2 linked regions of the Homo sapiens genome follow. The protein of the gene in region 1 interacts with the protein of each later gene in a pairwise test. Each region holds a gene or a part of one and is shown on either strand. Other genes may lie near its edges.

What was found.
Region 2: the proteins of RBPJ (region 1) and CIRSR interact in a two-hybrid assay, tested with the Homo sapiens proteins (one study listed by BioGRID and IntAct).

Annotation. Positions count from the first base shown.
Region 1 is NC_000004.12:26,425,504-26,430,274, forward strand, and holds part of RBPJ (recombining binding protein suppressor of hairless), read left to right. Parts: intron 1-3,216; coding exon 3,217-3,357; intron 3,358-4,394; coding exon 4,395-4,550; intron 4,551-4,771. UniProt on the Homo sapiens protein: Transcriptional regulator that plays a central role in Notch signaling, a signaling pathway involved in cell-cell communication that regulates a broad spectrum of cell-fate determinations.
Region 2 is NC_000002.12:174,349,797-174,355,007, forward strand, and holds part of CIRSR (corepressor interacting with RBPJ 1), read right to left. Parts: intron 1,930-5,211; coding exon 1,823-1,929; intron 950-1,822; coding exon 864-949; intron 1-863. UniProt on the Homo sapiens protein: May modulate splice site selection during alternative splicing of pre-mRNAs. Regulates transcription and acts as corepressor for RBPJ. Recruits RBPJ to the Sin3-histone deacetylase complex (HDAC). Required for RBPJ-mediated repression of transcription.

The sequences.
Region 1 (4,771 bases):
CAAGCTTAAGTGGGAGGATCACTTGAGCTCGGGAGGTCAAGGCTGCAATGAGCGGTGATCGTACCACTGGACTTTAGCCTGGGCAACAGAATGAGATCCTATCTCAACAACCACAGAAAAGGAGATCTTGAAATTGTAAAAACTACTTTTGTTAGTAAAATGAAAACAAAAGTCCTCTATAGTGCCACCACCCTCCCAATTTTCCCTCTCCTTTTCTCAAACAATATAATTTACTTATATTCAAGATGAAGGGGATTTATGAGTAAGTTTGATTCAAGGTCAGACTGAAGAGGTTGGGTGAGTAGAAGAACATTTAGTATTAATGTTCCTAAACATGCCTCCTATTTATCTTTTTGGTGCAATATTCCACTGGCTTATATTTTCTGGGGTCATTTCAGCAGAGGCTGGTTTGATCTACAGTTTTCTAAGCCAGTGATTCATTTCTTTGTTACTGTTTTTTTTTTTTACCCTCTGTCATGATTGTACAAGGTGATTTTATTTCCCATGTCAATGCAATAAGCTAGAAGACATGAAGTATAGTAATAGTAATCTGTAAAGCTTTGCAGCTGAGACAAATTATAATAAAAAGGGTAACGTTAGGGAATGAAGGGCATGAAAAACAGAGCAGGAGACAGAAGCAAGCAAAAAATCTGAATCAGCATTTATTCATTTTTTTTCTCTTCTCATTCATTTCCTCTGTTCCAAGGATGATGTTCATTTGCTTTGGTGTTAAATGCTTGTACTGCAGAAGCACAACTTAGGAGGATGATTCTGATCACCAATAGTTTATAATACAAACCACTTAGAAGACAGACCCAAATTTAAAACAATGTTTTCATTTACAGTTGTTTGTAAAGTACCAGTAGCCTGCCTTGCTTGAAAGTCATTAATTGAGGTTTTTACACTCAAAACTGTATGGCTTTATATAAAAATGTTGCAATGAAAAATTAACTTATTAGAAAAAGTTGCAGTACCATTATTAAGACGCTGATACATAAATCTTTCCAGGGGTTTCATGACAGGAATTCTGACATGCAAAGTCGAGTGCCTCTCGTCATTGAGTTTACATTTTGATAGAGTGATAAGCCAAATACCCATGTAAAGGATTTATGTAGTGATGAAAAAACAAAACAAGATAATAAAGGGATAGAGAATTGGAGGAGCGCTTAGAGAGGTCAGGGAAGTCTTTTTGAAGTCGCAGTATTTGAAGAGAGCCCAGAATGAAGTCAAAGAACCGGTAATTGAGTGAGGAGCATTTCAGGCAAACAGAACAAGTACAGAACTGAAGGCAGGGGATGTATGATGACTAGTAAAGAAACCAGTGGAGCTGGAGCGGAGGGAGGAGAGGTCAAGTGGCAGGAACTGAATCTGTAAGGTTAGCACTAAGCAAGACCTTGTAGGATCCCTCTCTGTATCTAGGGTAAGGACTTCATATTATCTCTGCATGTTAGAAGGCCACTGGAGGATTTTAAACGGGGCACGATGGCCTATTTTTGTTTAGAAGTATATGTGTGGCTGCTGTGTGGAGAAGAGAGCATAGCAATGCGGCCGTGGAAGCAGAGAGACAGGTGCTTGGATTGTTGTCATAATTGAGGCAAGAGTTGATGCTATCTTAGACCCAGGATCATAGTATTAAGGTGGTGAGGGGTGACTGATTTGTTGGAAAGTGGACCTGACAGAATTTGCTGGCAGATTGGATGGTTGGGTGTGAGAGAAAGCAAGGCATCAAGGGTGACTCTTAAGGTTTTTGGATTGAGTGAATGCTAGTGCCATTTATTGACCTAGATGAGTTGGGGAAGGATCAAGTTTAGGAGGAAATCCAAAAATCTGTTTTCGATATGCTAAGCTTGAGGTGCCTGTTAGACATCGTAAGTGGAAATGTTGAATAGGTAGTTAAGTGTACATACAAGTTGAATGCAGGAGAGAAGTCTGGAGATAATAAATTTGGGAGTTGTCAACCTTTAAATTTTTAAACAGTATAGATTATAAAGAGAGGAAAAGAGGGCTGAGAACTCAGCTCTGGGCATTTTAAAGGTCAGTTGGAGCAGTTGTGGTCCTGAAAGCAAAATGTGTTGAGAGCTTCTGAGAAAATGAAGTAAAATGAGGACAGAAAAGTGCCGTGAGATGCATCTGTCTGGAAATCCTTGGTGGCTTTGAAAAGCAGTTGTAGTGGCGTCTTTGAGATAAAAGGTTGGAGAGATTGCAGGAGATTGGACAGTGAGGAAGAGGCGTTTGCAGAAAAACAGGTAGTGAGAGGGAGGGACAGGAGCATGTAGTCAGTGTTTTCTTTACTTTTGATTTTGAGATGAGAGATAGTTATGTTTGTATGTTGTTGGAAGTGATCAATAGAAAAGGAAACAGAGTAAAAGTTCTGTGTCAAATTTTGCTCTTCATCATGATCATCTACTTAGCCATTACCTTCTAGGTGTCAAGTGTCATATAGGGTTTGATAGTATTATCTTTCAGATATTCATGTGTTTTGTAGACTAGTTGCGTTATAAGCTTTAGAGATCAGTTGGACAGGCAGCCAGCCCTGGGATCAGGACATATTCTGGTCCTTCAGCTACTAAACTGGTAATTTTGAGCAATTTGTCTGACCTTTCTAAGCCCATTTTGTAATCTGTAAAATGAGTTTGATTTTGTTATGTTTTTAAATACGTAAGTTTTGGATAATAGATATAAGACGTTTGCACTGACAGTAGCCTTCTAGAGATTTTTCCCTTTGATGTTGGAGTATTTGTCATTTTATGCATATTATTGGAAAATATCATTAGAACTTGCTGTTCAAAATATGGTCTGTAGGCCAGCAGCATTAACATCAACTGGGATTTTGTTAGAAATGCAGAATATCAGGCCCCACAAGAGTCCTGCTAGATCAGAACCTGTGTTTTTCACAAGAACCCCAGCTCATTTATGTGCACATTAATGTTTGAAAAACACTGATCTAGAAAACAAGTGCCTGCCTGCCTGATTTTTTTTTTTTAGATGTTCAGGGAAGAGGGTAACAGTTTCTACATTCTGACATGCTTGCAATCTAAAAGTGTTTTTTATTCCTAGTCTTTTTGTTTGTGAATGTTTTTATATATGTAGGCATAGGACAAATAACTGTGATGTATTATTATGCAGTATATAGCTTCTATGTACTTTTGATGTTTTACACAAGGAAAATCCTTTCCATGTGTGGATGACCTTTTATTTCTTAATTGTTAAATATAGATAATTAGGAAAGTTGATAAGCAGACCGCATTATTGGATGCAGATGATCCTGTGTCACAACTCCATAAATGTGCATTTTACCTTAAGGATACAGAAAGAATGTATTTGTGCCTTTCTCAAGAAAGAATAATTCAATTTCAGGTATGTTTTTAAATTACTGGTGAAATCTAAAATGTACAAACTGTGAGGTTAGCAGCTTGCAAAAATATGAAATTTTCATTTGCTGTTAATTATATACAAATACATGAAGCTATACACAGATATTTATCTCAGGTATGAGCATCCTTAACACACAATCCTCAGACATGCAAGCAATCCTTCCTCAAGGAAGAACTCAAAATTATGAAAATGTTCTCAGAGAAAACAGTTAACATCTAGTTCCAGGGTTCTTAATTGAAGAACAAAGAGCCCCTCAGGATATCCAAAAATAGATTTTCAGTGCTCATTGAATCCTCTGAAATTGTGTGCAAACATTGTATAGACAAAGCATTTTTCTGGGTGAAGGCTCAAAATCTCATCAGATTTATGTCGTGGTTTCCGAAGATAGTAATGATGACATGCTTTGAAAGCTAATGTTTTACATTTACTCAGAAGGCTTTCATGAGGTTATGACATGGGCAGATGATTTAATAAGACAGTTATGGTTTCATGTGAAACTCCTTTGCAGAGAGATGCCCATACACACTGATGGGCATGCTGAGTCCCTGGTCTAGGTGTGTTAAGGTAGGGGTAGGGGCTTTGCCTTCCCATCTTGATTCCCTCCCATGGAACATGCATAAGCTTCTAGCTGTTGCCTAAGCATGAGGAGTCCCATTGTCTTTCTTAGGAGTCCTTGAAGAGTTTTAAACAGCCATTTACATCACAGATATTGATCTGCTGTTAATGAAATTGTACCTGCATTGGTATACTCATAATGGTTGTTCTGAAAGGTATTATTATTTAATATGTCACTGAAATAGTTTGTATTATAAGAAAAACTGCTGTCTATGGGGTTTCTGTATTAGCATTCTGTTTGTGTTTATGTAGGGATTGGCAAAGCACCATACTTTAGAAAGTTTATAAGTTTTTACTGAGTTATCTTCTTATTAACTCTTGTCTGAGGGTTACTTGGTAAAATTTTCTTATCCTATTAATACAAACTGTATAAAACTTAGTTTCTAAACTTCTTTCTTTATTAGGCCACTCCATGTCCAAAAGAACCAAATAAAGAGATGATAAATGATGGCGCTTCCTGGACAATCATTAGCACAGATAAGGCAGAGTATACATTTTATGAGGGAATGGGCCCTGTCCTTGCCCCAGTCACTCCTGTGCCTGTGGTAGAGAGCCTTCAGGTGAGAACGCCTAGTCCAAGTTGGCCTTCAGCTCTTTGCAGCTACTCTCAGCTGTGACCTGGCATCATTTCATTTCATGGGAGTTTTGATTTTTCTCCAATCGTCTGATTAGGGGATTTTTATATACACCATTTGTTGATTTAAAGAAAAAAAAACAAAATTAGGAGGAGCGTACTTGCCAGAAAATTTAAATGTAAATAAACTTGTATGTTATCTTGAAA
Region 2 (5,211 bases), on another chromosome or scaffold:
GCCTGTGAAAGGTGTGTAACATCAGTTGGAACTACTAAAAAAGCAAATATATAGCTATAATCAGATGAAAAATTAATTTTATGTACTATTTTATAGTATATAAATATTAATCAACGTTATCAAAATTCAAGAGAATATTCTCCAGAAATTCTGAGTAAGAGTACACATTAAACTTCTGAAATATTGGTTTTATAAAATAATATAGTTAATACTTGTTTTCAACAATTGTTTAGTTTTATAAATAGGACAATCCTATTAAAACATTCTGAATTTCTAGAGTACTTCACATTCTTGGAGGAGTAACTTGTTTATATGGTATGTTTGAGTTACTCTGAAAATAAGTCTCTAGGTTCTGTCTAGCCATTCTCAAAACTCTACATACTGAAAGCATCATGAGCTCCCTCTATTGGACCCAGCAGACATTTCTTGGATTCTTTTAATTCAGAGGTAGTCTGTTTAACAAAATTCACGTTTACCTTAAATTTAAGCATTCTTTCTGCATTCTCATAAAATTTTACAAAACATTTTAAAAATGGCCAAAAATGTTTCCTAAGAACAAATTGTGTGCGAAGATACACACAAATCTATTTTGAAAAGTAAAAGCTATAAATAAGTCTAATTCTAAATTAAACATTCTGAAAAGTGCAATCGTTTTGTGGTACAATCTGAGTATACAATCTTACACTCATTTCCATGTTACTGAAAAGACAGACAAAATTGTATTAGCTATGGGTGAAGAATAATCAATAAATGTGATGCATGGTATAAGGACCTTCATGAGCTCTTAGGATCAGAGTTGAATACGATACTGAGATGAATACTAAGGAAAAAATAAATCTATTAAATATATACTTCTAAATTACCTGAGAAGTTTCTGTTTTTGTTTGGTTGTTAGTGACTTTAAAAATTCAACTTCTGGATCTTCTTCACCCTCACTTGCAACATACTCCTGAGTCAACAAAGATATCATTAAATTGCTAGATTTCAACACAAGGTAGTTAGTAGATAAAAAAGAAAACATTTATAAATAAGTTTTGTATCAGGGACACACTGTAGATGAATATGATATTTTGGATTGGGAAGTGGGAGAGAATTAAAAAATTTTTTTGTAGTCTCCCTGCCGAAGTGGATCATACAGCACTAAGAGGTTAACATGACTGCTTTGCCAGCATTAGGAAACTTTTCCAGGAAAAGGATGATAGACACACACAGATAAAATGTTTAGAGCATGACTTCCATTCTCTATCTCTTGAATGTTAACTCTTGCCAGTTTAAATACTTTATTTTTAATTTAATGAAATATAAAAAAGAAGATTATGAGTTTTACAGGAATGTCAAAATATCCACAATTTTAGCTTTTATTATAATTTCAACAGCACATTATCAAATATATAATAATATAGCCCTTCAAACTCAATCATTTTCTGGATCTATGTATAGTTTAATAAAATAAATAAGTTTAAAATATTTTCTACAATTTTTAGGAGTTTTTACATACTTCTAACCATTGGTTCTATTTAATGTCATATCAGGGGTAAGTTAGCAGGAAGGAAAAACCAACAACCTCATCACCAGTTCAGTTAGATATTTTATCCACATAAACTCAGAGGAGCAGTTTCATTTATTAAAATACAGGTTTATAAACAATTTCTCATTTAGATTAAAATAATAAAGCAAAATCAAAACACATTTTGGGCATTTTCTTTGCTCTATCTTACTTTCCTATGGATATATGCATATTGGAAAACATTAAGTAGCAATTCACAAGCAATCACATTTAGATTTATAGACATTTTCAGCTTACTGATAAAAAGATCATTACCTGTGATGGATCATTTGCGGTCAAGTTTCTCCCCAGTACATTTCGTTTCAGTGCAAACCCACTGTTTCTCATCTCCGCTATTAGCTCCGAGGGGTGCATCGATGGCCCTGTTCACAAAAATCACAGTTTGAATGTATCATTTATATCTCTCTACCTTTTTCGGACTCCACAGTAGGAATGCAGTTGAAGCTTTGTTAAGTAAAATCACAGCTAAATCAACTCAATAATCTTCTGCTGAGCAAATAATCAGATATGATTTTCTAAAACAGCAGTCTGGAGATTCAGAATAGAAAATAATTGCATTTTTCTTTACGTGCAAGGGGAGTCTTCTTATGTAACTTTGTCATATTGAAAAAGATACATTTAGATGTTATCTGGTTGGCAGTTTTTAGTATAAAATCAAAGCAAAATATTATAATAAAAAACTACAATTAAACTTTTAGTAGTTATTCTCTCAGTAAGAGTTCATTTAAAAGATGTATTTTTAAAGGTACATGAGGAATTTATCATCCTTATTTCCAATTCAAAATTCCTCATCCTTATTTGTCAAATAACAATACTGAATACATTGCCAAGTGGTTGCTAATCACACACACACACACACACACATACACACACACACACACCTATGGGTAACCACCAAGTACTTTAATTAATCTTGCTTTTATTCCCAGATTTCAAAATTTTTAATTACTAGCTTGGGTTGCTAACAAGCAGTTTTAGGCTGGCTATTGGTATGTATGTTTTATATTTTTTTACACTACACTTCCACTTTTGCAAAATCTCAGACTGAAAAGTGAGCTTTTTGTTTCCCAAATATGAACTAACAATAAATTTTAAAAATTTTCAGCTGGGAGTGGTGACTCATGCGTGTAATCCCAGCATTTTGAGAGGCAGAGGCGGGAGGATCACTTGAGCCCAGGAGGCCAACTTGGCCAACATGGCAAAACCATGTCTCTAAATAAATAAATAATTTTTTTTTAAAGGTTTGCCCCCTGCCCTCAAACATAAGGTTTATGTAAGGTAAGAGAGACTCTTATCTCATTTTGTATATTCCTGTTTCATTTTGTTTTCCCTGCAGATAGCAAACTAATGACAACATTTCATGGCAGCTATTTAAAGTTGCCAGCCTAAATCACCTACACTGGCTTAAATGACGTACTCCAGCTGATGTGTCTGTCACTTAGGGAAGAATGAGACAGTTACTGCCAAAAAGGAGTTCATACGGGAGGGTAGGGGGATAGAAAAATATTCAGAAATGAGTTCTTTAGTTTGCTGGTTGAATACTTTGTCTATTTCTTTTTACTGCTTTGTTGGTCTTTTACCACTTATTTGCGCACTCACCTGCATATTATCATGGAAAGCAAAAGGCAATCAGTTCAAATTTGTTTACCTGTCAATAGCAGATGTGGTTAAAAATTTGGTGAGAAAAACTCAGTTATAAGATAATATATTTTACTGGACTTTCCAGGCTTTACCATTCCATTCATATTGCGAAGAACAACTGTAAGTTTGCCCTAGGTACTAGGGAGATGATGGGGAAAAACTGTCTATTATTGGAGTATGGGGGAAGTTATTAATGATGTCATAGTTTTAGGAAAAAAAGCCTTATTTAGTTAAAAACAAACAAAAACACCTGTCTTATATTAATATTTCATTTTAAACCAAGAGGGTTTTTAATTTTTTTCTTCTATACAAAATGTTTAATTCCTATGTATTACTTTAATGGCCCTTTAATTATTCAGTCTGGTTGTTAACATTGATAATACAATCTTAAATAAAATTGAATTTTAAATATTAATACTGGTTGCCTCTAAATGGCATAGAGGTGCTCATACAATTAAGAGCTTTTTGTGTGTGTGTGTGTGAGATGGAGTCTTGCTCTGTTGCCCAGGCTGGAGTGCAGTGGCACGATCTCGGCTCACTGCAACCTCCGCCACCTGGGTTAAAGCAATTCTCCTGCCTCAGCCTCTGGAGTAGCTGGGATTACAGGCAACTGCCACCATGCCTGGCTAATTTTCGTATTTGTAGTAGAAACGGGGTTTCACCATGTTGGTCAGGCTGGTCTCAAACTCCTGACCTCGTGATCTGCCAGCCTCAGCCTCCTAAAGTGCTGGGATTACAGCCGTGAGCCACCGCGCCCGGCTCAATTAAGAGCTTTAAATGAATAATAGAATGTTTACTTTGGTGGCTTCTCAAATTTCACATGTAGGAACTTAATTTTATAAAGTAGAAAATGTCTCTTCTGAAGTGTCAAAACTACATTTCCTTGTCAACAATTTTATTAGATATCGAATGAATTCAGACACCAAACTTGTTAATAATTAGAATAAAAACCACTCCAATAAAGGGTCACAAAGCTTGGCCATCATGATGAGAGGTTATACTAATTTCATCAGTTTTCATCACAAGATGGGTAATTTTAATAAGATGTTATAGAAAGCATGCCTTCTTTACAGTACTTCCAACTATGTCAAGAAAATGATGTATTTCCCCAGTGTTACAGAGATTATACAGACTATTAAACAATCATTACTCTTCTAGCATTTATATTTTTCAAAAATCCCAACTGAAAACTCTGTGTAGTATATAAATTTAGCACACTTTCACAATGTATGACTGTAAATAGAGTGCTTAGTGAAGTGCTCGACAAATAGTACTTAATAAAGAGTAACAACTATTATTTTTACCAGTACCTATTCAACTTTCTTATATAAGAAATTGTCTTTTTATAAGATATATTATATATGTACATATATTACTTATATATGTACATATATATTTTATATATTATATATAATATATATTATATGATATATATAATATATTATATAATATAATATATAAAATATATATAATATATATTATATTATATAAATTATATTATATATATCATATAATATATTTTATATATTATATAATATATATTATATTATATATATTTTATATATTATATTATATATTATATATATCATATAATATATATTATATTATATATTTTATATATTATATAATATATATTATATATTTTTATATATTATATAATATATATTATATATTTTATATATTATATAATACATATATTATATATAATATAATATATATTATATAATATATATTTTACATATGTATATATATTATATATATATATATTTTTTTTTTTGGTAGAGACAGGGTTTTGCCATGTTGCCCAGGCTGGTCTTGAATGCCTCAGCTCAAATAATACACCTGCCTAGGTCTCCCAAAGTACTGGGATTACAGTTGTAAGCCACTGCACCCGGCCACTATCCAAATTCCATGACTATCTTACGGTACTTTTCATAATACAAAAAAATGCTCTTAGTAGTAATACTTTTCACAATGCAGTCTTATTCACATTTTTTTTATAC